Homo sapiens: one gene and its partners. The protein of the gene in region 1 interacts with the protein of each later gene in a biochemical or structural test. Each region holds a gene or a part of one and is shown on either strand. Other genes may lie near its edges.

Region 1 (7,028 bases):
GAGGGCAGATACTGTGGGCCTCAGCTGTCTATAAATATGTAGCTGTATTAAGTAAGGGATGAGTGGGCTTCTAAGGGTCAGGTTATAAGATACCTTTTGAAATCAAGATGTGATCTCTGAGAATAACAAAGTTCCTATTTCCTATGGGATTTTAAAGTTGGGTGTGGATGGGAGAAATTTGCTTGAAATGAATGGCTATTAGCTTAATTCCTACACAGACAGAACAAAACATGACCAATGGCAGTTTAGCATATTCTGGACATCTTTGCAATTTTAGCAATATATTCTAATGGCAAAATAAAGCACTTTATAGTTTCACTAAAATGAGTGAAACATAAATGTCCCCATGCCTTTTGGCAGCATCCTATGCCATCTCTTTTTCCAATACATCCCCCTACCCCACTAATTTGGTCTTTGGTGCATGTCTGTTTCTTTCAAGGAATTTTGCTCCATACGTAAACTGCTTTGGATAGATTACACTCTTTTTAATTTTATTAAATCACTTTTGTTTCCAGCTTTTACTTGGCAGAAATCTCCATGGCTTTGGGGCATTTACATCAAAAGGGGATCATCTACAGAGACCTGAAGCCGGAGAATATCATGCTTAATCACCAAGGTGGAGACATACCGTAAACAATTCTATAGTAAATAATCATCTTAAAATCCTCCCACATAGGTCGTGGCCATTTTCAAAGCCCCAAATTCATCTCTCTATTTTGTATATTTCCTCCCTCAGAATTCATGGCATCATAGTACTTGCTGATATTTTAAGTCTTTAGGTAATTACGCTTGGTGAGAGTAAAAGAAGTTGAGGATAATAGTCGCTCAACTGCCTTTTTTAGTTTAATCCTTACTCTTTATAGTTTTTCATGTTTTTGGAATCTTTACATCAAATGTTGTATAATGTTTTAGACTGTAAAAGCCAGTCTAAACATTAATTTTGGCTTGTTACTTAAATTGAAAAGTGAATCTCAATTATATAAGTTGAGTTTTAATAATGAAAATATGTAAATATTGGCTGGGCACAGTGGCTGACACCTGTAATCCCAGCACTTTGGGAGGCTAAGGTGGGTGGATCACCTGAGGTCAGGAGTTCAAGACGCCTGGCCAACATGGTGAAACCCCATCTCTACAAAAATACAAAAAAAAAAAAAAATTAGCTGGGCATGATGGTGGGTGCCTGTAATCCCAGCTACTCAGGAGGCTGAGGTGGGAGAATCGCCTGAACCCAGGAGGCGAAAGTTGCAGTGAGCCAAGATCGCGACATTATACTCCAGCCTGAGTGAAAAGAGCGAGACTCCGTCTCAAAAAAAAAGAAAATATGTGAATATTAGAAGCTATGCTTCTTACAGTAGGTTTTATTAATGCTGGGAAAAGGATTGAAATTGAACCAAAGTATTTGATAAAACTTTGGAAATATGATGTTTAGTAGGCATCAGGTTACTTTTTTTTTTTTTTTTTTGAGATGGGGGTCTCACTCTGTCATCCAGGCTAGAGTATGGTGGCATGATTACAGCTCACTGCAACCTCCGCCTCCCAGGCTCAAGTGATCCTTCCACCCCGGCCCCTCAAGTAGCTGGGGCCACTGTGGCACACCACCACGCCTGACTAATTTTTGGTATTTTTTGTAGAAATGGGGTTTCATCATGTTGCCCAGGGTGGTCTCAAACTCCTGAGCTCAATTGATCTGCCTGCCTTGGCCTCCCAAATTGCTGGGATTACAGGCATAACCCACCTTCCCCCCAGCCAGAATCAGTTTATTCTTGCTGTTTGTTTGTAACAACAAACATAAACATCAGAGAGACTGATAATCTATACAACTATAGATATAGCACAGTGAGCCTTGACTACAACTGCATGCTGCTAAAGACAGCTCAATTTATGCTAATCTGGGCTGTAGGTAGACTTGGCAATTCACTCGTACCCCAAAGGAGCAACCAGCTGACCCAGGGTATCTAGAAGGTGGTAGCAGCTGCTAATCCTTAGATGTCTACAGAATAATCCATGAGGTAGTTAATTGTTTCAAACTCTTAGAAAATGATGTATGAACAACTGAGGCTCATATAAACATTCCAGATTATACTCCTCCACCCACCTTTTTTTTTTTTTTAAGGAGAAATGATATACTTAACTGAATATATCATGGGAATCAGTGTCTCTTCCTTCCTCTCATCAACACCTCCTCACTCCCCAAAACGTGGATTCTGATCTGAATTATAAGTCACAGGATAGAATAGGGGAGCGATAGAATAGTTAACTTCTTTGATTTATAAGGTTGAGTGTATCAGATGGTTCTGTGAAAATAAAGGCCATACTTCTTCTGTATCAGAGTGTAGTATATATTTACATTTGAATCAATAGGTCATTGTGCCTTTTCTGTGAAATGAACCTCAAATACTAGAGTCCCTGAGATTGTTGAACCACTTGTTATGACAGTCCAGTAAAGAAAGCTAAACTTGAACTGAAATGATCTTTGTGTAAGGTGGTAAGTTTTTTACTTTCTGGATCAGTGATGATTGATTCATACTATCTAGCAATTTTCTTTCTTTCCCCTAATTGGTAGCATTGGGCAGAATGAGCTACCTTGTTATAATGAGTTTCTGAGACCATTTTAAGGACTCTTCACAGTTCACTGTGATAAAAGCTATATATTTGAAGTACTGTCTCACACCTTTGTTCAAAAGGTACAGAGTATGTTTATTGGGGTCTGTGTACGTAAACTAGACTTCATAAAACAGTTTTCCCAGGATTTTTCTTTTTCAGGATGGTAGAGAATTTTGTATATACTTAAAGCTAGAGCCTTAAACAGGTTATTTCACTTTTTTCTCTATCTTTATTTTCTCTTTACTAGATAGATTGTATCATTGGCAAAAGGTGACTTTGCCCTAGCCTTAAACAGTTAGCATCCCATTTTATGGATGGTACCTTGTTCTTGACATCTGCAAGAAAATTTGAGGCAAGAAAAGTTAAATGGAAGGATAGATTAAAGTATTATGTGACATGTTCAAACACTGCACATACTTATAATTCGGAGAATAATCATGCTGTAATCTTTCATTGTAGGTCATGTGAAACTAACAGACTTTGGACTATGCAAAGAATCTATTCATGATGGAACAGTCACACACACATTTTGTGGAACAATAGAATACATGTGAGCTACATGTTAAACATAATTGGTTTGGGGGTAATAGCTAATTTTACCTGTTTTAAGGAATAGTATCTGTTTTCTGTACCCTCATTGACTCTGTATATTGTTTTTAAAATTCTAATTCAGATGATATGCAAATGGGTGAATTTTTAAGCATATTATTTTCCTCATTGTAGGGCCCCTGAAATCTTGATGAGAAGTGGCCACAATCGTGCTGTGGATTGGTGGAGTTTGGGAGCATTAATGTATGACATGCTGACTGGAGCAGTAGGTGCACAGTTAAAAGCTGCATGTATTATTGGTCTGTGCTGAGTCACTATAGCAAGAGACCTGTCCTGTGCTTTCTGAACATGTTACCAGTGGAGTTTTCAAAGCCCAAAGATTTGTTATTAGCAGTTTAACACTAATAATGCTGTATGATTATATGGGATCCCATACTTTCCGAAACATTTTCTTTTAAATGATCTATGTCATGGCAGGCCTGTGAAATAGATGTTGAATAGATAATGCCCTTATTTTATAAATGGAGAAATTGAAGCATAAAATCACATAGCTCACTTATCACACAGAAAGTTAATGGTGGAAACACAGGCTTCCTTCCAGGACACTGCTACTTCCTCTGTCCTGTTGCTTAAAAACTGCACGTCTGCCGGCCACAGTGGTGCATGCCTGTAGCCTAAGCTACTCAGGAGGCTGAGGTGGGAGGATCATTTGAGCTAAGGATTATTAATAGAATCTAGCCTTGACAACATAGTTGAGACCCTGTCTGTAAAACAAAATAAAGGTCTTTAGCAGTTAGCCCATTTCACAGCATACATTTCTGATCTCCATGTATAACTAATTTAGGAAATGGATAATATTATTCAAAATTTGTTTCTTATATGCTAATATTTTTCTCTCCCTGCTAATATTTTTCACTTGTCTTCTACTCTTAGCCCCCATTCACTGGGGAGAATAGAAAGAAAACAATTGACAAAATCCTCAAATGTAAACTCAATTTGCCTCCCTACCTCACACAAGAAGCCAGAGATCTGCTTAAAAAGGTAAGGTTCTTAAATGGTCACTGACACTACAAGATTCAATGACTAGGATTTAACTAGATAGAATTTAATGTATATTTTGAATAAAGAGTCATATATAAATATTGAACAAAAAAGTCTTCAATTTTTGAAGGCGAAGTACAGATTTGTTTAAAGACTTTCTTTTCATATTCTTTTTTTAAATTTTTTTTTTTTGAGACAGGGTCTTGCCCTGTCACCCAGGCTAGAGTGCAGTGGTGCGATCTTGGCTCACTGCAACCTCAGTCTCCCAGGTTCAAGCGATTCTTCCGCCTCAGCCTCTCAAGTAGCTGGGATTACAGGCACCCGCCACCACGCCCGGCTAATTTTTGTATTTTTAGTAGAGACAGGGTTTCACCGTGTTGGTCAGTCTGGTCTGGAACTCCTGACCTCAGGTGATCCACCTGCCCTGGCCTCCCAAAGTGCTAAGTGCTGGGATTACAGACCCTTAAACAATATTAAGTAGTAATTAGTAAACTATATTTTCTTTTCTTTTCTTTTCTTTTTTTTCTGAGATGGAGTCTTGCTCTGTCGTCCAGGCTGGAGTGCAATGGCATGATCTTGGCTCTCACTGCAACCTCCACCTCCCAGGTTCAAGTGATTCTCCTGCCTCAGTCTCCCTAGTAGCTGGGATTACAGGTGTTCACCACCACGCCAGGCTAATTTTTGTATTTTTAGTAGAGAAGGGGTTTCACCATGTTGGCCAACCTCGAACTCCCAACCTCAGGTGATCCACCTGCCTCAGCCTCCCAAAGTGCTGGGATTACAGGCATGAGCCACTGTGCCTGGCCAATAAACTATATTTTCTCAAGCCAAAGTAGACAAGCACAGTCTAAAAAGGAAAAAAAAAAATCAGTTTGACTAAGGTTCTTTATCCAAGCTTTTTTTCCTCTTTAAAGCTGCTGAAAAGAAATGCTGCTTCTCGTCTGGGAGCTGGTCCTGGGGACGCTGGAGAAGTTCAAGTAGGGATTGGCATCTTTGGTGTTTTGTGGGGAAGATAATGCTAGTTTTATGTATTTCTGAGGGTTATATGTAGTTGCTTATAAGTTTAGCTTATTTTGTGACTTGTAACTTCAAAAAGGTGATTAATTTATCAATCCAGCAAAGTCTAGTCCCCTCAACTTTTCTTCCTGCTTTTTTTTTCCTAGGCTCATCCATTCTTTAGACACATTAACTGGGAAGAACTTCTGGCTCGAAAGGTGGAGCCCCCCTTTAAACCTCTGTTGGTAAGTATACATGAAAGTGTATAATTGGGTGCAGTGGCTCACGCCTGTAATCCCCAAACTTTAAAGGGCCAAGGTGGGAGGATTGTTTGAGGCCAGGAGTTCAAGACCAGCATGGGCAACATAACAAGACTCCATATCTACAAAACATTTAAAAGTTAGCTGGGTGTGGCGGCTTGTGCCTGTAAGTCCCAGCTACTTGCAAGGCTGAGGCAGGAGGATCGCTTGATATTTTTTTAGAATAAGAAAAATCTCAGAGCAGACAGAAACATTATTTTTATTAGCAGTTCAAAGATCTCTGGTCTATCCTCTCCAGCATCTTTATTTTATTTTATTTTGAGATGGGGTCTCACTCTGTCACCCAGGATGGAGTGCAGCAGCACGATCACAGTTCAATGCAGCCTTGACCTCCCCAGGCTCAGGTGATTCTCCCACCTCAGCTTCCCAAATAGCTACGACTACAGACACGTGTCACCATGCCTAGCTAATTTTTTTGTATTTTTTATAGAAATAGGGTTTTGCCATGTCACCCAGACTGGTCTTGAACTCCTGGGCTCAAGTGATCCACCCACCTCAGCCTCTCAAAGTGCTGGGATTACAGGTGTGAGCTTCTGCACCCAGCCAAGCATCTTTTATTTTTGTACTATCTTGTAAAGAACTAAACCCAGTGGCAATTGACTGTATTAGCTATTTTTAAGTCAGTTACCTAAGACAAATATTTCAGGTAGTTGGGACTTTCCTTTTTTTGGTTTGTTTTATTTTGCTTAATTTAACCATTTTAAATATGATTCTCTGGGAATTTTTTCTTCAAAGTATAGAATATGTGTGCATTCGTTTGCTAGGCTTGCTGCAACAAAGTACCACAAACCGGGTGGCTTAGACAACAGAAATTTATTATCTCATAGATCTGGAGACTAGAAGTTCTAGATCACATTGTTAGAGTTGGTTTCTTTGACTACTGTGAGAAACTGTATGTTCCATGCCTCTCCCCTGGCTTCTGGTGGTTTGCTGGTAATCTTTGTCATTCTTTGGCTTGTAGGTGCATCACCCGGATCTCTGCCTTCATGTTCACATGGTGTTCTACCTGTGTGCATATCTGTGGCCAAATTTCCCCTTTTTATAAGGATACCAGGCATATTGGATTAGGGTTCCTCTCTACTCCAGTAGGACCTCATCTTCACTAATTACATCTGCAATAACCCTTTCCAAATAAGGTCACATTCTGAGGAACTAGAGGTTAGAATTTCAATGTACGAAATTTTTTGGGGGTGGGTAAGGCACACGATTCAACCCATAACAATATGTTTGTGAGTAAATCAGTTAGTGTGTTAGTTATTGTCCTTCTCCCACCTCAGAATCTGAGAAAATACAGTTTCTTTTTCCATTCCTTAGGATGTAGTTGGAGAAGGAGGAGGATGATGATGGTGATTATTTTTTGGTCATGGAGCATAATGTCCCCACTTTAAAAAACAACAAACAATTGTAAGGAAGTTAACTGTCATATACCTACTGCCCAGCTTAAAAAATGATTAGGTCATCTTGTTTAAACATAACTGCCATCCCATCATCACACCTCAGAAGTTGACAGTTTCCTTA
Region 2 (7,028 bases), about 14 Mb from region 1:
AGGGCTACAGACACATGCCATCATGCCCAGCTAATTTTTACAGTTTCCTTTTGTAGAGACAGGATCTTGTTTTGTTGCCCAGGCTAGTCTCAGACTCCTGGCTTCAAGTGATCCTCCCACAGTGCTGGGATTACAAGTGTGAGCCACCGAGCCTGGCCTCATTTATATATATATATGTGTATATATATATAATATATATAAAATATATTTAATATATATAATATATATAATATATATATAATATATAATATATATTATATATGTTTTTATATATATTATATATTATACATATTATATATATAAAAATATATATAATATATAATATATAATATATATTATAATATATAATATATATAATATATATAATATATTAGATATATAATATATACAATATATTATATATATAAATATATATAATATATAACATATATAATATATACATATATAATATATAATATATAATATATATAAATATATATAATATATAAATATATAATATATAAATATATAATATATAATATATAATATATATAAATATATAATATATAAATATATAATATATAATATATATAATATATAATATATATAAATATATAATATATAATATATAATATATAATATATAATATATATTATATATAAATATATAATATATATAAATATATAATATATAAATATATATAATATATAAATATATAAATATATAATATATAATATATATAATATATAATATATAAAATATATAATATATAATATATTTATATATTATATTATATAAATATATATATTATATTTTAATATATATTATATATATAAAAAAAATATATATAAAACCAAAGAGATTCCTTTTTTTTTTTTTTTTTGAGAAGAAGTCTAGCTCTGTCGCCCAGGCTAGAGTGCAGTGGTGCGATCTCGGCTCACTGCAACCTCCACCTCCCGGGTTCACGCCATTCCCCTGCCTCAGCCTCTCGAGTAGCTGGGACTACAGGCGCCCGCCACCACGCCCGGCTAATTTTTTGTATTTTTAGTAGAGACGGGGTTTCACAAAGCCAGGATGGTCTCAATCTCCTAACCTCATGATCTGCCCGCCTCGGCCTCCCAAAGTGCTGGGATTACAGGCGTGAGCCACCGCGCCCAGACTGCCTGATGTTGCCCTGATTAATTACCCAAGAAGTCTCTTTTTGGGGGACAGGCCATGGGAGGGGGATGAGGCAAGACAATAGTTTGGTGCCACTGTTCAATTAAGAACAACTGGAAACAGGTACCACTGAAATGACCTGCAAATCAATGGCAGAACTGGATCCGATCCAGGACAACTCTGTTGACACATGATTTAGAACGCTGGCTCCAATTCAGGAGGAGGAGCTGTCCTTTACGCTGGGGGAGGAGCACCGTCCCACGGTTCCATGAATTTGTCCTTCCCAGCACTTCGTTCTTGGCATTCTGTGGCGTCTGTAGAGCACATGACAAGCAATTACAGAGCCAGGGGTCTTCTAATATCCTTGCTATCCCAGGGAGGAGGACACAAGCATGAAAGTGCATCCCTGGACTTTTTGTGGTGAAACTGCAGACTTAGATCCCAAGATAACATCACCAGCCTTCTCAGTAAAACAGAAAACTGGGCCATAGGCTGGAAGGAAAACCAGCAGCTGGGACTAGAGATAATTATGTCCCTCTTCTCTTTGATGCCTGGATTTAGCAGTAGGGTGGACGGGGCCAAAGGAGAGGAATGAATGAAACATTATTATCAATTGCTTCAGATTTAATTCTCACTTGCTGATTTAAAACTGTTTTTAGTGTTGGACATTGATCTAAGACTCTTTCCTCAGGGGAGTTAATATAGCAAAGGGAATTTAAACTTATTTTCAGTCTGTTGAGGAGGATTTTACCCTCTTAAGTTGGGATTCTATGTGAATGACTTCAAAGTGCTGTGCTAGTCCTGGCAGACAGACAGAAGATGGGCGGGGAGAATGCCCACCTTTTACTAATTTATAAGTTTCCCCAGTAGGTGTTCTTCTGATACCCTGTAAGAATAAGACATGAAGGTCTGTAAACATGCAAGGCTGGGGTCCACACAGCCTGATCTGCAGTCAGGACTGCCTCTTATCACAGCCAAGCACTTACTAAAGGTCATCTGTGCCCATTCAAAATCTTGTATGTACACCAGACTTGCTATAATAATCACATATCCTAAATAAGGTGCAAGCTGGCCGGGCGCGGTGGCTCACACCTGTAATCCCAGCACTTTGGGAGGCCGAGGTGGGTGGATCACTTGGGTCAGAAGTTCGGGACCAGCCTGGCCAACATGGCGATACCCCATCCCTACAAAAATACAAAAATCAGCCGAGCATTATGGTGTGTACCTGTAGTCCCGGCTACGGCGGAGGCTGAGGCGGAATTGCTTGAACCCAGGAGGTGGAGGTCGCAGTGAGCCAAGATCGCGCCATTGCACTTAAGCCTGGGCGATAGAGCGAGACTCCGTCTCAAAAAAAGATTAAAAAATAAGGTGCAAGCTGATGGAGTAAAAGTGCTGAGGAATAAGCTCTTCAAATCATTCAATGATTTTAAGAAAATTTAGTTGAATGTTTTGGAAAGACTTCATAAAGGTGAGTAATATTTACTATCAAATGGGATGGTAAAGACCATGAAAAAAAAAAAAAAAAGTAAAATCCCTGAAGGATTCTGCATTCAGATGACTCCACAATGTAAACCCAAAATCCAAACTGAAATCGGAGGACCCAGACAGTGCATTATTAATGTGGCATAGGCAAAACAGACAAGAAATTTCAACTGGCTGATCCAGACACCAAGAGAAGACCTGAGCCCTGTGTCAAAAGATGGGTGAACAAATTCACATTTATATAGTTTCGGTTAAAGTAAAATCTTGGAAATCTATGTGTATCATTTAAATGATTTTCTGATATAATGACTTTTTAAAACTGATATATTGTTACTTAGTCTTGATTTAAGCGATAAGAAGGCTTCTTAGGCCGAATTTATTAATTCATAAATGACTATACTTATTGGATACATGGAATTCCTAAGATTCAGTACACCACAAGTTTGCTTTATTTAATCCTTTTCTACTCTACTCTCAACCAACCACCCTGAAATCTGTTTGCCAGTTTACCAATGTCAGCACTCTGTTGAATTACTTCATTTGTAAAATCTCTTCTTTACCTCCTTCGCCTTCCCTGACTGCCATTACTTTCTCGATCAGCCCTCACTTTTTATTCAACGAGTAAACTGGAAAGATCTCTGAACCCGATGTACTAAGCCAGGTCACCCTGCCCGGGATGGCTGGCGGGAAGGCAGGTCAGTTTGGGCTGGTGGAGAGCATGCAGTTTATTCCTGGCATGGAGTGGATTTCAGGAAGAAGATGAGGCAGGGACAGCAGATGACAAATCTCCGCTTGCCTGTGGCAAGAGTTCTGTGTGTACATTTAAACATGGGTGTGTGCAATTTTCAGAGGATCCACTTCTGCCCAGTTTGGTGCAGGGGAGCTGGGTAGTTGCCGACTTTTCCTATCTTGATCCCTACTCAGTGTAACAATTTATCTGTACAACTGATTCCATCACCAGGATCTTTAGACCCCTCTGGTCATTCAGCCAATCACAAGCACTCATCCACAGGACACCGCCGATGATGCCATTTACTGAGCAGTTACTATGTGCTTGGCCCTAGTGAGTACCGGGTTAGCTTGTGTGAACCCCATGGCAACCCGTGAGACAGGTACCATCATACTCCAAGTTGTGGATGACAAAAAACTCTCCAAGCAGCTAAACAATATGGCTTAGGTCTCACAGTGAGCAGGGAGCTGGGATTTGTGCCCAGGAGGCCCGATCAGAGCCTACCTCCTTAACCATTAGGCCAAACTGCCTCCACATGCAGAACACTGCCCTGCACTGGGGACCTGGGGGAGGGTAACAGTGTCTGCCCTTGAGCTGCTCCCAAACCTTCCTTGAATAGCCTTGGCACAAAATGCATTTCTTGGGGACTCGCTGACATGGTGTTTGGATTTCTATCGGGTCCCTGATTGGGCTCAGCATGGAGCCTGATGAAATATGAAAAAAGCAAAGAAAATTAAGGGACTATACATGGAAGTTGTTCGAGTTTGTATTTTGCTGAAGCCCATTCTATCTGCATGCTTACAGAAAGTTTCCTAACTGGAGAACCCAGAAAGCTCAAAACCTGTCTCAAATTCCTCCTCACACTCAGTTGGGAGCCATCTGGGCAGGCAGGGAACCTGGCAGAGGTGGCAGGAGCATGGCACCTGGAGACAGGAAAGGAATTCTTGGACAGCAAACTCTTTGGCAAGGCAACAGGGGCGAGACAGAGGATTCTCAGGTAGCCCCAAGGTACCACAGTATAATGGAATACTTATTGCAAAGCCTGGGCCCCAGGAAGTGAGAAAAGCCTCCCAGGCCCATCTTTGCCAAAAGATTCTTACAAGAGGACTTGCCTATGCCCACCCAACTCAACCCACACCCACAATCTCAGAGCAGGCCTCATCAGTGGGCGCCAACGCTTTCACCTTGCCGAGGTACAGAACCTAAGCTGGGGATCTGATGTCCCTAAACCTCAGAGACTTGACCTTGGCCACACTGAATCTACGTCTTGATCCCCCAGTCTTGATTTCCAGCCTTCCCTGGGTCAATCAAACCAGCTGCCCCGTCATATGGCAGAGCAGTCCAGAAACCCTGGATTGGGGGAAGAGGTTTAAGGACCTTAGGAAGAGATATTTGCTCTTTGTTTTATAAACAGAGCACCAATGTAGAGTGAAATGCCTTGCTCTCTGTGTCGGGGCCAGATAAGAAATTGAGAGCTTTAACTCCACATCTCCCTAACCTTATTCTGGGTCATGCTCCGATTACAGACTCTTGTAAAAATTCATTTGTGAGACAGTGGTTTTGGAATCAATATTCTACTGGGTCAATGTTATAGATCATATCTGGGTTCCCAGACTAGTCCACAATGGCCAAGTAAACCCACATGTGGCTGAGAGGGGAGGGAACTAGTGTCAGGCAACCAGCTCCACCACCCACTGGCTCTGTGACCTTTAGCAAGTTACTAACCCTCTCTGTGCTTCAGTTTCCCCATCACGGAGATAATAACAGCACCTGCTACATAGCGGAAGTGTTGTGAGGATTAAATGAGATAATCTTAGCAAGCACTTAGAATAGGGCCTCCTAAAAGACACTCAATGAATGTAATTAAGATAGCAGTGCCAGTGTCAACCCCAGCAGTGGTGACATTGGGACTGGGTCATATTTTGATGTAGGAGACTGTCCTGTGCCTTCCTTGTAGGATGTTTAACAGCATTCCTGGCCTCTACCCACAAGATGTCAGTAGCACCCTCCCCGAGTTGTGAAAACAAAAACATCTCTCTAGACATCTCAGTGGCCCCCAGTTGAGAACCATGGTTTTACAGGAAAACAGCTGAGAGTCCCTGCTGGAACATGAGGACTCCTCTCCCTGCTGCAGCCCAGCTGGTGAGGCTGGGGTCTTCTCTTCCCGTCACCTGCTGAGGTGCCCCCCAAACGCCAGCTCCATGTCACTAGTGGAAGCACCTAACTCCTGGGCATGGCAAGTTAGGAGTGGCCAGGGGGGTGTTTCTGGGAGTGTGAGGGGGCTTTGGGGGTCTCTGAACACGGTGATGAGGAAAGTGGTGGTGGAGGAAAGAGCAGAGTCAAACGCAGTTTCCCACCTGCTTCCCACTGTATTTCCCCATTTATCCTTCATGGATAAAATCCATTTGGTATGGACCGAATACCTCTTGTATGTCTAGCACTGTATTAGGCCCCTACGGCTGTTTTTATTTGTTTTTGAGTGATTCTTTTTCAAGGAGGGAGTAAGGAAGATGCTAAATAAATACATCAATAGAAGGCAAGGTCCAGTTGGAAAATTATCACATGTCCAATTGGAAAAATAACACGTGTTCGTACATATAGCCACAGAGCTACTGAAACCACACACATAAATGCTGAGGGAAAGTGGAATAAAACAGTTTCTTTAAATTTTCAACAAATGGACTGTAACAACAGATGTTAAAAAGGCAGAAGGAAAACCACAATCTTATCCCATCTCCAGGCTGGCACCGACCTCCAAGGGCATGAGGGTCAAAGGGCACGTTTAATAGAAAGGCCACTTTTTCCAACCGGAATAAATCTAACCTTTCCTCAATCAAAGCGATTCTAAGTTTTCTAACAATTTATGGGCAGTATCCATTTCTTTTGTTCCTGTCGGAGGAGCAATGCCTGATATTAGAAACCACTTAAAAGTCACGCCCTTCCAGCAGGAACAGTCATGGACTGTCACTCATCCAAAACCCAGCAAAGCCAACAAGCCCCTTCCCCAAATCGTCCAAAGGTGAACCCAAGAGCCAAGCCAGGTTATTGCTATATAAACATCTGTTAGAGAAGCAAACTTGGCCAAGGAATGTATGAGCTTCAAGAGTCACTCCGGACCTGCGTAGCAGGGGTGGGGGCAGGGGATACACTTATCTGTTTATCCATTAATTTGTTTACGTAGAGGGAGGATTTGGAGATGCTTATACAGTAAATATAAGCAGCTTATACAGTAATTATAATACAATGCTTATACAGTAAATACAATGCTTATACAGTAAATATAAGCAGCCATCACAAAACACAAAATGACACCCCAGAATCAACCGCGGTAGGAAAGACATTTCCCTGTCTCCTGTAGGATGGGTCAGTTAAGGGGCCGAGGGGGATCAGATAGAACTCAAATTGGTCCTGCTGAGCCTGGAGCCTGAGCACGCAGAGGGGTGAGCTAGGCAGTCGCTGTCGGAGCCCCCATCATCCCTTCCAGCCTGGACCATTCTGAGACGGAGGTTTGGAGTTACAGGTGTGTGAGCGCCAGAGGGTGAGAGGGGTCACTCGCTCGGAATGTAAGAGCTCCCGCCTGCTGGGAATGGGGAGGAGTCGTCGATGGCCCCAGGATCCGTGCCCAGACATTTCCAGAGGCGCACCGGCTGGTTCAGCACCCCACCGTCATCCGCGCAAA
Region 3 (7,028 bases), on another chromosome or scaffold:
CTCCCGAGTAACTGGGATTACAGGCACGTGCCACCACGCCCAGCTAATTTTTGTATTTTTAGTAGAGACAGGGTTTCACCATGTTGGCCAGGATGATCTCGGTCTCCTGAACTCGTGATCCACCCACCTTGGCCTCCCAAAGTGCTGGGATTACAGACGTGAGCCACCGTGCCCGACCAGAGTCTTAAGGTAGTAGCAGTATTCTTTTTTTGGCTGGGGGCAGGTGGGGGCAATGTATTTGGGCTTGTGCCCTGAATCGTGGACTCCACAACTTCTTGATTTTGAGAAAGCCAGTCAAAACTGCACTGAAATACAGATGCTAAATTTAGGATTTATGTTAGTATATCTTCAAGGATATTATAAGAAAAAATGTCTGCAATTTGTTGATGACTGGGTATTTATGTATATTGCCTTTAATCCCTTCAACAACCTTGCACAGTGGGTATGATTCTCTCCATTTTATTCATTGTTATTATTTTTATTTACTTTTTGTTTTTGAAATGGAATCTTGCTCTGTTGCCCAGGCTGGAGTGCAATGGCATGATCTTGGCTCACTGCAACCTCTGCCTCCTGGGTTCAAGTGATTCTCCTGCCTCAGCCTCCAGAGTAGCTGGGATTACAGGCACCTGCCACCATGCCTGGCTAATTTTTGTATTTTTAGTAGAAATAGAGGTTTCACCATGTTGGCCAGGCTGGTCTCAAGCTCCTGACCTCAGGTGATCCTCCCACCTTGGCTTCCCAAAGTGCTGGGATTACAGGCATGAGCCACCACTCCTGGCCTACTTATTTTTTTGAGACAGGTTCTTACTCTGTCACCCAGGTTGGAGTGCAGTGGTGATCACAGCTCAGCTCACTGCAACCTCCACCTCCCTGGCTCAGGTGATCCTCCCACCTCGGCCTCCTGAGTAGCTGGGACCACAAGTGCATGCCACACCCAGCTAATTTTTGTATTTTTTAGCAGAGATGGGGTTTTTCCATGTTGCCTACGCTGGCCTCAAACTCCGGAGGTCAAGGTATTTGCCCACCTGGGCCTCTCAAAGTGCAGGGATTATGGGCATGAGCCATTGTGTCTAGCCTGTTTATTATTTTTTAAATTAATTTATTTTCTTTTTAGAGACAGGGTCTCCATCACCCAGGCTAGAGTGCAGTAGTGTGATCATGGCTCACTGCAGTCTTGACCTCCTGGGGTCAAGAGATTCTCCTGCTAAGGCAGCTGCCTCCCGAGCAGCTGGGACCACAGCCATGCGCCACCATACCTGACCAATTCTTTTATTTTTTTGTAGAGATGGGGGTCTCACTTTTTTGCCCAGGCAGGTTGTGAACTCCTGGGCTCAAGCAGTCCTCTCACCTTGGCTTCACAAAGTGTTGGTATTACAGACATGAGCCACCGCACCTGGCAGGTTAACTCTGTACAGATGAGGATGCTGAGGCACATAAAGGTTAAATCTTTTGCGTAAGACAGTACCATTGATAGTGGAGTTGGGATTCAAACCCCCATTTGTCCATCTCTGCTATACCGTGCTATAGTCAGAATGATGAAATATATGAAAGGATATATGTATTTTTAATAAACTGTGTTTATTGAAGGGTATCTTTTTATAAATTACAAAAGTTAAAATGTTTATTTTTCTGTTTTAAAACAATTAGAAGTTTTTGGAATTGTGTAGAAAAAGTGTGATCTCTTCCCAAAGATAAGTAGAGATGTTAAGGGTATACACTCATGGAGCCACCTATATACAGCCTTCATTAATGTTACTGATTTAAAAGTGTTGTTCTTTTAAGCACTGTATGCTTCAAACAAATGAGTTGCCCAGAGTTAAGTCTTAAATGGAAAAGGTTTAGCTGCAGGGCATTTCCCAGTTATGATTCATGGAGATTCAAGTTTTCTTTTTGTAAGCATTATAGCGTATGGGAGAAGTTGATCTAATCGCAATTTAAAAAAGCAAAATATGACTGCTATATATATGATAATCAGATGCTATCTAGTCCAAGTATGGAATAGTTATAAGTGTGGATTAAATGGGAAGCATTTGTTTAGTAATTATGATGGGATATAATGGAGAAAATATAATATTCCATGGAAGATTTTTCCTGTTTTTAAAAAATTCTTCATTAGAAGTAGAATATGCTGCTTTTTGAAGCTTATCAGTCATGAGGTCTGATCGGTGCCTGTTGTAGGTACTCAAATATCTCTTGGATGGAGAGCGTAGTTGTTCTTGCCAATTAAGAGGAAATTAAGGGTTAAAGCAAAGCAGCAGCTGCTATCAGAATCCCTTAACTTTGGAATGCAGTAAGACATATTGCTTGTCAGAAACAGCTTTCCAAACCAACAGATGGAATTACAGGTTTTTAAAGCACTTCCATTGCTCCTAGATGCCTGCTAAGTTAGGACAGTTGCAGATAAAGTGCTTACAGCCAAGTGGAGCAGATCCCTTACACTGTCGAAGAAAGTAATTCAGTGGTAGCAAGTTATTTTTAGCTCTGGCCCCGCAGTGCCATTGTACTTGCCTGCAAGACCATCAGAAAATCATTTGGCCTTCTCTATTTTGCTCATTCCTTAACAGATGCTTTGATACTTCGAATTGTTAGATAAATTTAAAATGTACATTTTTATGACTTTTGTGTTTTTTGTTCAGTTTAAAAGAACCATGTAGATTATAGGCTTTCAATAAATACTTGTTAGTTGGACATAAATATGTAAAATTAAGGTTTTAAAGCACAGATATTTAAGATACAGTCTTAGAGCAAGAGAGGCTGTCCTCCTTTTACTGATAATAAGACAAATTAAGTCATTTGCCCAAGATCACATAGTTACTGGTGACAGATCTCAGCATAATCAGTATATATACTGTAATGTACAGTGGTAAATTAAAAAAAAATTAAAAGCCATTTTAGAATGTAGAACTCGGAAAATCTTAAAATTCTTAAATTTGACCTTTGCTTTTAGGAGAAAATGTGCACCTTCTACCATTCATTCCCAGCACTTTGCTTGAATGTGCATGGGTGTAAAAATTATACTTCAACCATAATTTATAGCAGTATTCTAAATTAAAAATTATAAAATGCTAAAAATAGCTTTTGAGCTAATTTTCATGATATTGAACTTTCAGAATATAAAAGAACAAACTTATCCTATTGATCTGCATTTTAGGTATATCCAGAGTCTTCAGGAGCTTCTTGATTTTAAGGACAAAAGTGCTGAGGATGCTAAAGCTATTTATGAGTAAGTTCACTATTTTGACCCTATTCTTAAACCTATTATTAGGTCACTTGGGGGAAATTGGTTAACTTTTAGGTTTCTACTACTTTAGAACATGTGATATATGTGACTGTAGCAGCCCATACAGGCAGGACAAATAACAATCAGCAAATTTGACTAGGCATAAGAAATGCTTCGTGTTCCTCTTTAACAAAAGACAAAGTTCAGGTGTGATGATCAGTGGAAATGTAGGTGTGGCCTCAGTGCCAGTTGGACTGTTCACCTGGAGGGTGCATGCTCCTTCTAATGGACAACCACCTTCAGCCCCAGCTGATCTTTGCCATATGAAAATACTGCCCATATCATCTGATTGTTTTCTGATTTTAAAGGAAAGCTACAAGTCTAGATTTGTAATGTAAAATCTCTCACTTTTGAAAGATTGGTAACTAATTAAAACATTTTTTAAAACACAGAAGGCCTAGAAGAACATGGTTGCAGGTCTCTAGTTTATGCTGTATGGCCTGCAAGATGATGTAAGTAATATGACAATGTTAATAACCCATATACCAGAATTGGTAAACCAAAGTATTTGCCTTATGCAGCTACCTGCTTATTGCAGTGAAGGGTACTGAGAGTGTAATGACCATCTCTTGTCCTCAGTTAGTTACACATGTTTTTTGGACTGTCTTTAAAGTGAACAGTAACACTTCATTTTTTTAAACATGATTTTAATCTGAAAATAACTTCAGCAAGAGTTTACTCCTTGCTTAGGTATTGAGCAGACTTTACATGAATGATGTTTTTTAATCTTTAAAACAATTCATTGAAATAATGCTGTTTGTGCACAAAGAGGGTAAGTAGTTTAAGGTTACATAGTTAGCAAATGGTAGAATCCAAGCAGTCTTACTTTAAAAGTAAACATTATGTTATAGAGCCTTCTGAAAACAGTCATTCAGAGCTGTGGAAAATAAGTAGTCAAGCAGAATAATACAGATTTGTGTTTCTTTGAAGCAGAAAGAAAATAATAAAGGAGTGACTAGAATGATGAGTTGTTTGTTGTTTTTGAAGAGTTTTGTTGTTTGTATTTTAGTTTAACAGTCTTGTTTTGAAGCGCATTACTAACTAGGAATTCCAAAAATGTTTTAAGCAGTGGAAACATCATTGGAATAAGTTAATAGTACTCAGGATGATGACTTTGAATAGGAAAGCACTCATTTGGAAGTGTAAATTCAGATGGGTTATGTTAGAAAATTGGTTTCGTTACTGCATAATTAAGACTTCTTGGGCCGGGCACGGTGGCTCACGCCTGTAATCCCAGCACTTTGGGAGGCCGAGGCGGGCGGATCGTCTGAGGTCGGGAGTTCGAGACCAGCCTGACCAACATGGAGAAACCCTGTCTCTACTAAAAATACAAAATTAGCCAGGCATCATGGTACATGCCTATAATCCCGGCTACTCAGGAAGGCTGAGGCAGTAGAATCACTTGAACTCGGGAGGTGGAGGTTGCAGTGAGCCGAGATTGCGCCATTGCTCTCCAGCCTGGGCAACAAGAGCAAAATTCCATCTCAAAAAAAAAAAAGACTTATTTTCTCTTTTATTTAGTTATTTAACCATGCAGTGTCTTCTAAGTGACAGAGATGGGAAGACTAGATGATTTGAAGATTTGTCTTTTAATATAATTGTTTACTTTTCCTCTCCCATTTTATAAACTCATAGGATGAGTGAAATGAGAATTCTTTTCTGTTTTTCTGTCCTAAGTGTTTCCTTCTCTCTTTGAACCCTAGGGAATAGGTCCAAAACAGGCAGGCTTTATTGGCTCATTCATCTTGATTCCTTGCAGAGCAGAGCAGGTGTTCTCTAGAGGCAAGTGCTTTGTCTCCTCCTATGCAGAATGTCTCTGGAATACCATCCTCTTAGCCAGTGCTCAGATGACCTTAGTTGATAACAGTTAAAACCATTAACATTTTTTGGATTACGTTTTGTGGCAGCCTTACTCTTAGGAAGCCAAGAAAAGAATTAAATCTTGAAAGTTTTATTTTGGAGGTCTGTATACTTTCATAGATTTGGTATATTTTATGATCTGAAATACATTTAAATAAGTATAGGAAAACATGAACCGATTTTCCTTTTATTAAATTGGGGATTTTTTGTCTAGCATAGTTGGTTAAGCTTATATTTTTGTATTAAGTTTACTTGTCAAAATATTTGGCTGTTTTGACAGATGGGTTTGTTTAGCTTTACAGATACTGTGATACGGATCAGAAACCGACACAATGATGTCATTCCCACAATGGCCCAGGGTGTGATTGAATACAAGGAGAGCTTTGGGGTGGATCCTGTCACCAGCCAGAATGTTCAGTACTTTTTGGATCGATTCTACATGAGTCGCATTTCAATTAGAATGTTACTCAATCAGCACTGTAAGTGTCCCTCATGAGTCAAGAGAAGAAGCTAAATGAGATGTGTTGGCATATTTTAAATTTATTTAGGAAAGTTCCATTTAGGTAGGAAATTTAGTTTTACCTTTTGGCTAATTAAGAAAAATAAATAGACTGCCATCAAGAAAGGTGTTTTTATTGAATGTAAAATACTATGTTTATCCTAAAGGAAAATATTTGTTCTGTTTGGTACAATTTAAACAGTATTCAGATTTGGAAAAGAGCATTAGGTGGTTTAGCTTATTTTGTTGGTTTTTTTCCTTTTTGGATAGCTTTATTGTTTGGTGGAAAAGGCAAAGGAAGTCCATCTCATCGAAAACACATTGGAAGCATAAATCCAAACTGCAATGTACTTGAAGTTATTAAAGGTAAATACTGACATTTCTCCTTGCAAAAAAAGATACAAAAATCAAAATTATTGTTATTTCTTACTATTAAAACATCTATTTGTATCATGAGATAAAATGGTAGGCACAAATGCATGGGTTTGAAAATAACCTTATAGTATTATTTGTGCATTATGTATAGGATGACTATTTTATTGATAGAATTATTTGTTAGGCAAAGTTTGGTGATACTATAGAGGATATCTTTTTTGTTTTGTTTTGTTTTGTTTGAGACAGAGTCTCACTCTGTTGCCCAGGCTGGAGTGCAGTGGTGTGATCTCAGCTCACTGCAGCCTCTGCCTCCTGAGTTCAAGCGATTGTCTTGCCTCAGCCTCCCCAGTAGCCGGGATTACAGATGCTCAACACTACGCCTGGCTAATTTTTGTATCTTTAGTGCAGGCAGGGTTTTACCATGTTGGCCAGGCTGGTCTGGAACTCCTGCCTGCCTGCCTGCCTGCCTCGGCCTCCCAAAGAGCTGGGATTACAGGCGTGAGCCACCGAGCCCAGCTGAGGGTATCTTTCACTTAAAAAAGAATTGAAGTCCCTACTGCCCTGTTTCTAATTCTTACACTATGAGCAGTAATTCATAACAATTTGGTTTGAATCATTTCACACTTTTTTCTATTTATACCACTTGTACACATACACAATTGATGTTGGTCTTACATTGTTGTTTTTAGAAAATGGGGTGCTCTATGTTTTTTTCTACAAGTTTACAGACATCTTGCTGTTCAGTACATCTGGATATGCTCCAAGGTTTTGAATGGCTCTATGGAATGTATCAGTATGTGTTAATTAATTCTCCTGTTCATGCACACTTAGGTTGTTTTAATTTTTTTCTGTTACCACCAATACCAGCAGTACTGCTGTGAACATCCTTAAATACACGCTCACTTTTGCTAGTATTTTAGAGGTGAGATTCCTAGAATTAAAAACATTTAAATGCATATAAAATTTTGGTATCTCCAAAAAGGTTTCAAACAATGGATAAGAGTGTTTCCTAAC
Region 4 (7,028 bases), about 21 Mb from region 1:
GGCAGCTGACATTTGGCACAGTGTGTGTGACAGTTTCTGGAGGGTGGGAACAGGGGCTCCCTGATGCCATAACTGAAGGGGCAACTGGGCTATGGCCAGGCCTCTCTCTTTGTCTTTGAGAAGTCAGCAAACTTTTTTTTTCTTTTATTGTAAATATTCATACTAATTCAGATTTATTACCAAACACACTGTAGTCCAACACTGCAGGCTGAACAACCCCATTTGTGGAGTGTTTTTCTGTTTCTTTTTTTTTTTTTTTTTTTTTGAGACAGGGTCTTGCTCTGTCATCCAGGCTGGAGTACAGTGGTGAGATCACACGGCTCACTGCAGCCTCGACCTCCTGGGCCTGAGTGATCCTCTCACCTCAGCCTCCCCAGTAGCTGAGACTATAAGTGTGCGCCAGTGTGTCTGGGGTTGGGGAGTCTCACTGTGTTGCCCAGGCTGGTCTTGAACTCCTGGGATCAAGCAATCCTCCTGCCTTGTCCTCCAAAAATGCTAGGATTACAGGCATCAGCCAACACGCTCAGCCTGGGGTGGTTTTTTTTTTTTTTTTTTTTTTTTTTTGAGATGGAGTTTCATTCTTGTTGCCCAGGCTGGAGTGCAGTGGTGTGGTCTTGACTCACTGCAACCTCCGCCTCCCAGGATCAAGCTATTCTCCTGCCTCAGCCTCCCAAGTAGCTGGGATTACAGGCGCCTGGCTAGTTTTTTTTGTATTTTTAGTGGAGATGGGGTTTCACCATGTTGGCCAGGCTGGTCCTGAACTCCTGACCTCGGGTCGTTCACCTGCCTCAGCCTCCCAAAGTGCTGGGATTACAGGTGTGAGCCACAGCACCTGGCCCTGGGGTGTTTTTTGACCAGTGGGTTACCTACGTAAGAATCTCTGTTACCCAGGCCTCCAGGCCACACAGTCCCACTGTGCTGGACGTAGCCTCCAGTCTGGTGGAGCAGCATGTTTGTAAAGTGAAATGTGTGGGCGTGGTTGTTCTGTGCTAGGAGCTACATCAACTACTTCCTGGTGGCCACTGACTGTCCTAAATGCAAGCTGAGATTTTGCTTCTTCTTGTGGTTAATGTGCAATTCCATACGCTTTTATTTTGTACATATATTCATTAGTTCTTACTGGCTCCTATTTAGTAGCCTTGCTACAGATTCCTCAAATTGACATCTTTACCAAAGTTGACTGACTGATGACTCCCAAGAAGTTTTTTTTGCCACCCAACACTTGGCATCCTTCCAGAGCTACAGCCCTTGCCCGCTCTCAGTTGGGATTCCTGCCATCTTTGTTTTGAATCAGTCTTGGTTTTCAAATGCCACTTTTACCACATTTTAATTTCTAAGTTACTGTTACTTTAAAATTATTATCAAGTTAGTTTGTTGTTTGGTTAATTCTACTATGTATAGTGAATGAGGCATATATGTATCCATAGTGTTTTTAGCTTGCAATTTTCAAATAACTAGACATATATGAATTGTAGTTCAAAATGAATCATTCACAGACCTTTGGCTAAAACAGATACGTATATATCTCCCCTATTTGTGTTTTTGGCTCACTGCAACCTCCGCCTCTTGGGTTCAAGCGATTCTCCTGCCGCAGCCTCCCGAGTAGCTGGGATTACAGGTGCCCACCACCATGCCTGGCCAATTTTTTTCATATTTTTATTAGAGACGGGGTTTCACTATGTTGGCCAGGCTGGTCTCAAACTCCTGACCTCAGGTGATCCACCTGCCTCGGCCTCCCAAAGTGCTGGGATTACAGGTGTGAGCCACCGTGCCTGGTCTAACTGTGATACTTTATAGTTATCACAGAGTTCATTTTCCTACTGGAAAGTGGACAGTGGGGATAACTGGTCTCAGATGACTCTTTTGCCTGGAATATGTGGGATGGAATGACGGGTGCTTGAGAGCTATTGCTCTGAAAGTGTTGACAGACATGCTATGTCTACACACATGTAGACTGACAGACACTCTGTCTACATGCATGTAGCACCCCTGGCAGACACATTCTGTGTACACATGTGTGGTGTCATTGTCAGACACTATTTCCATGCATGTGTAGGACCACTGACAGGCATCCTATGTCTACATGTGTAGGGGATGAAACGGTTAGATGAAGAAGGCTATTTTGTAAACCATTCTCTAGACTCAGTTGCATTGCTCTGTAGCCATACTTTGCCCAGGTCATGGAGGAAGCAGAGTAGATCTGTTCAACTAATACATGGACTGCCAAAGGTTTATGCGGTCTTTTCAGCAAGGGTAATAGCAATCCTTCATAATCTACACTACCCCCTCTGCTTTCCTCACCTTGCGTCCTCTCCACATTCCAACTGTGCCCTGTTCCACTCCCCTGAGACTGGTCTCCATATGGCCCCAGTTTGTTGCTAAATCTAAAGTTCTCTTCTCTGTCCTTCTCTGTTCTTATTTCACCTCTCAGCAGCATTCCACAATGTGGACCATGGCCTCTTCATAAAGCTCTTTCCTCACTTGCTTCTGTGTCTCCACGAAACTCGGATTTTCCTCTTAGGTCACTAGTTGTTCCTTCTCAGACTCCTTTGCTACCTGACACCTAAATGCAGGGGCACCCCAGGAATTGATCTTGGACCCCATTCTCTGTTCTGGGTGTGCCCCTCCCTAGCAGATCTCATCGGGGCCCATGATTTTAAATAGTGTCTACATGCCAGTGATGCTTAAACCCCCAATCTTTAGTTCTGATCTGGCCTGAAATTTCTGTCTCAGATGCCTACTGCCTGCTTTTTCTTAGTTTTCTCCATCACCGCTTGCCACAACCACCATCCACTCAGTTGTTCAAGCTGTAAGTTTAGAGTTTATCCTTAATTCTTTCCTCTCCCTCTCTTTATCGCCCCATCCAATTCATTAGAACCCATCAGCGTTACTTCCAAAGCATGTCTTACATTGGCCTGCTTCATTTTGTCTCCACTGATGCAGCCCCAGTCCAGGCAGCCACCGTCTCTTGTCTGGACACTGCATTTGTGTCCTGACTGGTCTCCCTATGTCCATTCTTGCCCTACAACCAGTTTTTCACATAGCAGTCAGAGGGATCTTTTATTTATTTTGAAATGGAGTCTCTCCTTGTTTCTCAGGCTGGAGTGCAATGGCGTGATCTCGGCTCACTGCAACCTCCACCTCCCGAGTTCAAGAGATTCTCGTGCCTCAGTCTCCCGAGTAGCTGGGACTACCAGTGCATGACACCATGCCCGGCTGATTTTTTGTATTTTTAGTAGAGATGCGGTTTCACCATGTTGGCCAGGCTGGTCTTGAACTCCTGAGCTCAAGTGATCCTCCCACCTCAGCCTCCCAGAGTGCTGGATTACAGGCGTGAGCCATCACACCTGGCCAGAGGGATTTTTTGAAAGTGTGAAGGGGTGGGTTGCCCCTCCACACCTGTGGGTGTTTCTTGTTAGGTGGGACGAGAGACTTGGAAAAGAAAAAGAAACAGAGACAAAGTATAGAGAGAGAAATAAGGGGACCCAGGGAACCAGCGTTCAGCATATGGAGGATCCCGCCAGCCTCAGAGTTCCCTTAGTATTTATTGATCATTCGTGGGTGTTTCTCCGAGAGGGGGATGTGTCAGGGTCACAAGACAATAGTGGGGAGAGGGTCAGCAGACAAACACGTGAACAAGGGTCTTTGCATCATAGACAAGGTAAAGGATTAAGTGCTGTGCTTTTAGATATGCATACACATAAATATCTCAATGCTTTACAAAGCAGTATTGCTGCCCGCATGTCCCACCTCCAGCCCTAAGGCAGTTTTTCCCTATCTCAGTAGATGGAACGTACAATCGGGTTTTATACCGAGACATTCCATTGCCCAGGGACGGGCAGGAGACAGATGCCTTCCTCTTGTCTCAACTGCAAGAGGCATGCCTTCCTCTTCTACTAATCCTCCTCAGCACAGACCCTTTACGGGTGTCGGGCTGGGGGACGGTCAGGTCTTTCCCTTCCCACGAGGCCATATTTCAGACTATCACATGGGGAGAAACCTTGGACAATACCTGGCTTTCCTAGGCAGAGGTCCCTGTGGCCTTCCGCAGTGTTTGTGTCCCTGGGTACTTGAGATTAGGGAGTGATGATGACTCTTAAGGAGCATGCTGCCTTCAAGCATCTGTTTAACAAAGCACATCTTGCACCGCCCTTAATCCATTTAACCCTGAGTTTGACACAGCACATGTTTCAGAGAGCACGGGGTTGGGGGTAAGGTCATAGATTAACAGAATCTCAAGGCAGAAGAATTTGTCTTAGTACAGAATAAAATGGAGTCTCCTATGTCTACTTCTTTCTATACAGACACAGTAACAATCTGATCTCTCTTGCTTTTCCCCACAAAAGTGTGAATCAGATTCTGTTACTTCCTTACTGGTGGTCTCCATTGGCTTCCTCTGTGCTTAAAGTAGAACTCAGACTCCTCTTGCTGGTTCACAAAGCCTTCATGATTTGGCCTCTGCCTGCCTTTTCTGCTTCTTGGATAGAAACTCCTGGAATGCTTTTCTCTCTGATCTTTGCACACCTGGCCCCTTCTCGTCGTTCATACTTAGCATCTAGGTCCCTTCCTCAGAGAGGCCCACCATCACCCCATCTGAAGCAGCCACCCTGTCACTCATAAACCCTCCTGATGGCTATTTATTTCTCTGATATTTTTCTCCCTACTTCCTCCTGGAGATGTGAGCTTTTCATCATAAAGCAAGGACCTAGTCTAGTCTATGCTAGTCCATAGGGCAGTGCTTGGCACATAGTAGGGATTCAACAAAACTATACTGATACAAAATGGATAGTTTACAAAAGGCTTCCACATACATTATCTTTAAGGCTCAACAGCACCATAAATTACCTAGGGATCATTCTCTCCGTGTTACTGATGAGGTAACTGACGTTTTAGTTGAATGGCTTACCTAAAGTTACATAAGTAACATGGCTAGCAGTGAGAGGAAGTGGAACCTGTGCAGAGGGAGAAACAAAGTTTAGTTCAAAACAAAACAAAACAAAACTGTATCATAATGTCTCCACTGAAACATTTATGTTAAGAGGTCAGGGGGTTGAAAATAGCAGACCAGCAGACCAACATTCAGCAGACAGAGAAGGATGCTCAGTCTGCTCACAGCATGTGCCCTGTGCACTGGGGCTTCTCCTAGACCCTTGCAGGGATCCACAAGGTCAAAACTGTTTTCATAATAATGGAACACCATTGGCCTTTTCCACTCTGTTGATACCTGCACTGACAGTGCAAAAGTGATGAATCAAGACAGCGGTGCCAAGCTGTACTACTAGTTCCTGATTTCTTTGCCATGCACATGGAGAGAATGTCCTTGCTAATAAAGCAGTGAAAATGATGACTTTTACTAAATCTTGACTGTTAAGCACACATCTTTTTCAGACTGTGTGTGCTGCTCCTTCTCCTGCAGGCAAAGCCCAGTGGCTGCCTGGAGGAGGAGCATCTGCTGCCTTCATGGACGCAGCACGTCCCAAAGGAATCACCGACAGGCCGCCTCTGGATGTTGAGGCCTGTGTCCACGGCAGACGTGTTTTTGAAAATGAACTTAGTGAGCTGTCACTTCAAGGAATACAGCTGACAGTATTTGCTGCCAGTCATGAAATTTGAACCTTCAAGTGAAAATTGGTTTTGGAAAACTTGTATCTGCCGCTGTGAGCCTGGCAGCTTCCCAAGACTTAAAGATGTTTCTGGTGAGATCCATAGTGATATTAATGAATGGAATTAATGTTGTAGAATGAAATGTGCCCACATTTGGAACAGCTGCATAATTCAGTGAACAAATATTTCCAGATGACCAATCCATGATATTATAAAATCATCCATAGGTAAAAGATCCGTTCAATGTTAGACCAGTGGATTTTAATGTAATAGGGTACAAAAAGTTCACCAGAGGATAGGTGTTTTTTTTTCTTTTTTTTTAAGACGGAATCTTGCTCTGTTGCCCAGGTTGGAGTGCAGTGGCGCGATCTCGGCTCACTGCAACCTCCGCCTCCCAGGTTCAAGCAATTCTCCTGCCTCAGCCTCCTGAGTAGTTGGGATTACATGTGCCTGCTACCACGCCTGGCTAATTTTCATATTTTTAGTAGAGATGGGGTTTTGCCATATTGGCCAGGCTGGTCTCGAACTCCTGACTTCAGGTGATCCACCTGCCTTGGCCTCCTAAAGTGCTGGGATTACAGGGGTCAGCCACCACACCCCGCTTGATGTTCTGTTGTGTGCGTGTGTGTATATTTTTTGTTGTTATTTGTTTGTTTCACAGTTCACTGCATCCTTGACCTGGGCTCAAGTGATCCTCCTGCCTCAGCCTCCTGAGTCGCTGGGACTACAGGTGTGAGTCACCATGCCTAGATTTTTTTTTTGGATTTTTTGTAGGGATGGGGTCTCACTATGTTGCCTATAGTGAGAGTTTAAATATTTTATTCAAATAGATTGCAACAGATCTTTAAGAAACTACCACTTACTCAATTTTGTTGTAATATCAAATAATAATATTCTCAATTATTTGGATATTCTGATACTCCTGCCATTATGTATCTTTGTGAGGCCAGATTTTTCTCACATACTTCAACCAAAACAGTGTATTTCAACCCATTGAATGTGGCACCAAAAATGAGAATCCAAGGTGGGGTGCGGTGGCTCACACCTGTAATCCCAGCACTTTGGGAGACTGAGGCGGGCAGATCATGAGGTCAGGAGATCAAGACCATCCTGGCTAACACGATGAAACCCCATCTCTACTAAAAAATACCAAAAATTAGCCGGGCGAGGTGACGGGCGCCTGTAGTCCCAGCTACTTGGGAGGCTGAGGCAGGAGAATGGCGTGAACCCGGGAGGCAGAGCTTGCAGTGAGCTGAGATTGCGCCACTGCACTCCAGCCTGGGTGACAGAGTGAGACTCTGTCTCAAAACAAAACAAAACAAAACAAAACAAACAACAACAACAACAAAAAAAATGAGAATCCAGTTGTCTTCTATGAAGCTGGATATTAAAGAGATTTGCAAAAATCTAAAAAAAGCCACCTG

The links.
Region 2: of the proteins of RPS6KB1 (region 1) and MAPT, one has a biochemical effect on the other in vitro, tested with the Homo sapiens proteins (2 studies listed by BioGRID and IntAct).
Region 3: the proteins of RPS6KB1 (region 1) and PDK1 form a complex in vitro, tested with the Homo sapiens proteins (2 studies listed by BioGRID and IntAct, with this or other methods).
Region 4: of the proteins of RPS6KB1 (region 1) and RPTOR, one has a biochemical effect on the other in vitro, tested with the Homo sapiens proteins (6 studies listed by BioGRID and IntAct, with this or other methods).

Annotation. Positions count from the first base shown.
Region 1 is NC_000017.11:59,931,107-59,938,134, forward strand, and holds part of RPS6KB1 (ribosomal protein S6 kinase beta-1), read left to right. Parts: intron 1-515; coding exon 516-616; intron 617-3,063; coding exon 3,064-3,154; intron 3,155-3,327; coding exon 3,328-3,418; exon of another isoform or gene 3,419-3,422; intron 3,423-4,086; coding exon 4,087-4,194; intron 4,195-5,108; coding exon 5,109-5,171; intron 5,172-5,357; coding exon 5,358-5,435; intron 5,436-6,471; coding exon of another isoform or gene 6,472-6,520; exon of another isoform or gene 6,521-6,668; intron 6,669-7,028. UniProt on the Homo sapiens protein: Serine/threonine-protein kinase that acts downstream of mTOR signaling in response to growth factors and nutrients to promote cell proliferation, cell growth and cell cycle progression.
Region 2 is NC_000017.11:45,897,549-45,904,576, reverse strand, and holds part of MAPT (microtubule-associated protein tau), read right to left. Parts: exon of another isoform or gene 5,779-7,028; intron 1-5,778. UniProt on the Homo sapiens protein: Promotes microtubule assembly and stability, and might be involved in the establishment and maintenance of neuronal polarity.
Region 3 is NC_000002.12:172,559,069-172,566,096, forward strand, and holds part of PDK1 ([Pyruvate dehydrogenase (acetyl-transferring)] kinase isozyme 1, mitochondrial isoform 2 precursor), read left to right. Parts: intron 1-3,151; coding exon 3,152-3,223; intron 3,224-3,672; coding exon of another isoform or gene 3,673-3,732; intron 3,733-5,042; exon of another isoform or gene 5,043-5,062; intron 5,063-5,434; coding exon 5,435-5,619; intron 5,620-5,909; coding exon 5,910-6,005; intron 6,006-7,028. UniProt on the Homo sapiens protein: Kinase that plays a key role in regulation of glucose and fatty acid metabolism and homeostasis via phosphorylation of the pyruvate dehydrogenase subunits PDHA1 and PDHA2.
Region 4 is NC_000017.11:80,547,835-80,554,862, forward strand, and holds part of RPTOR (regulatory-associated protein of mTOR), read left to right. Parts: intron 1-7,028. UniProt on the Homo sapiens protein: Component of the mechanistic target of rapamycin complex 1 (mTORC1), an evolutionarily conserved central nutrient sensor that stimulates anabolic reactions and macromolecule biosynthesis to promote cellular biomass generation and growth.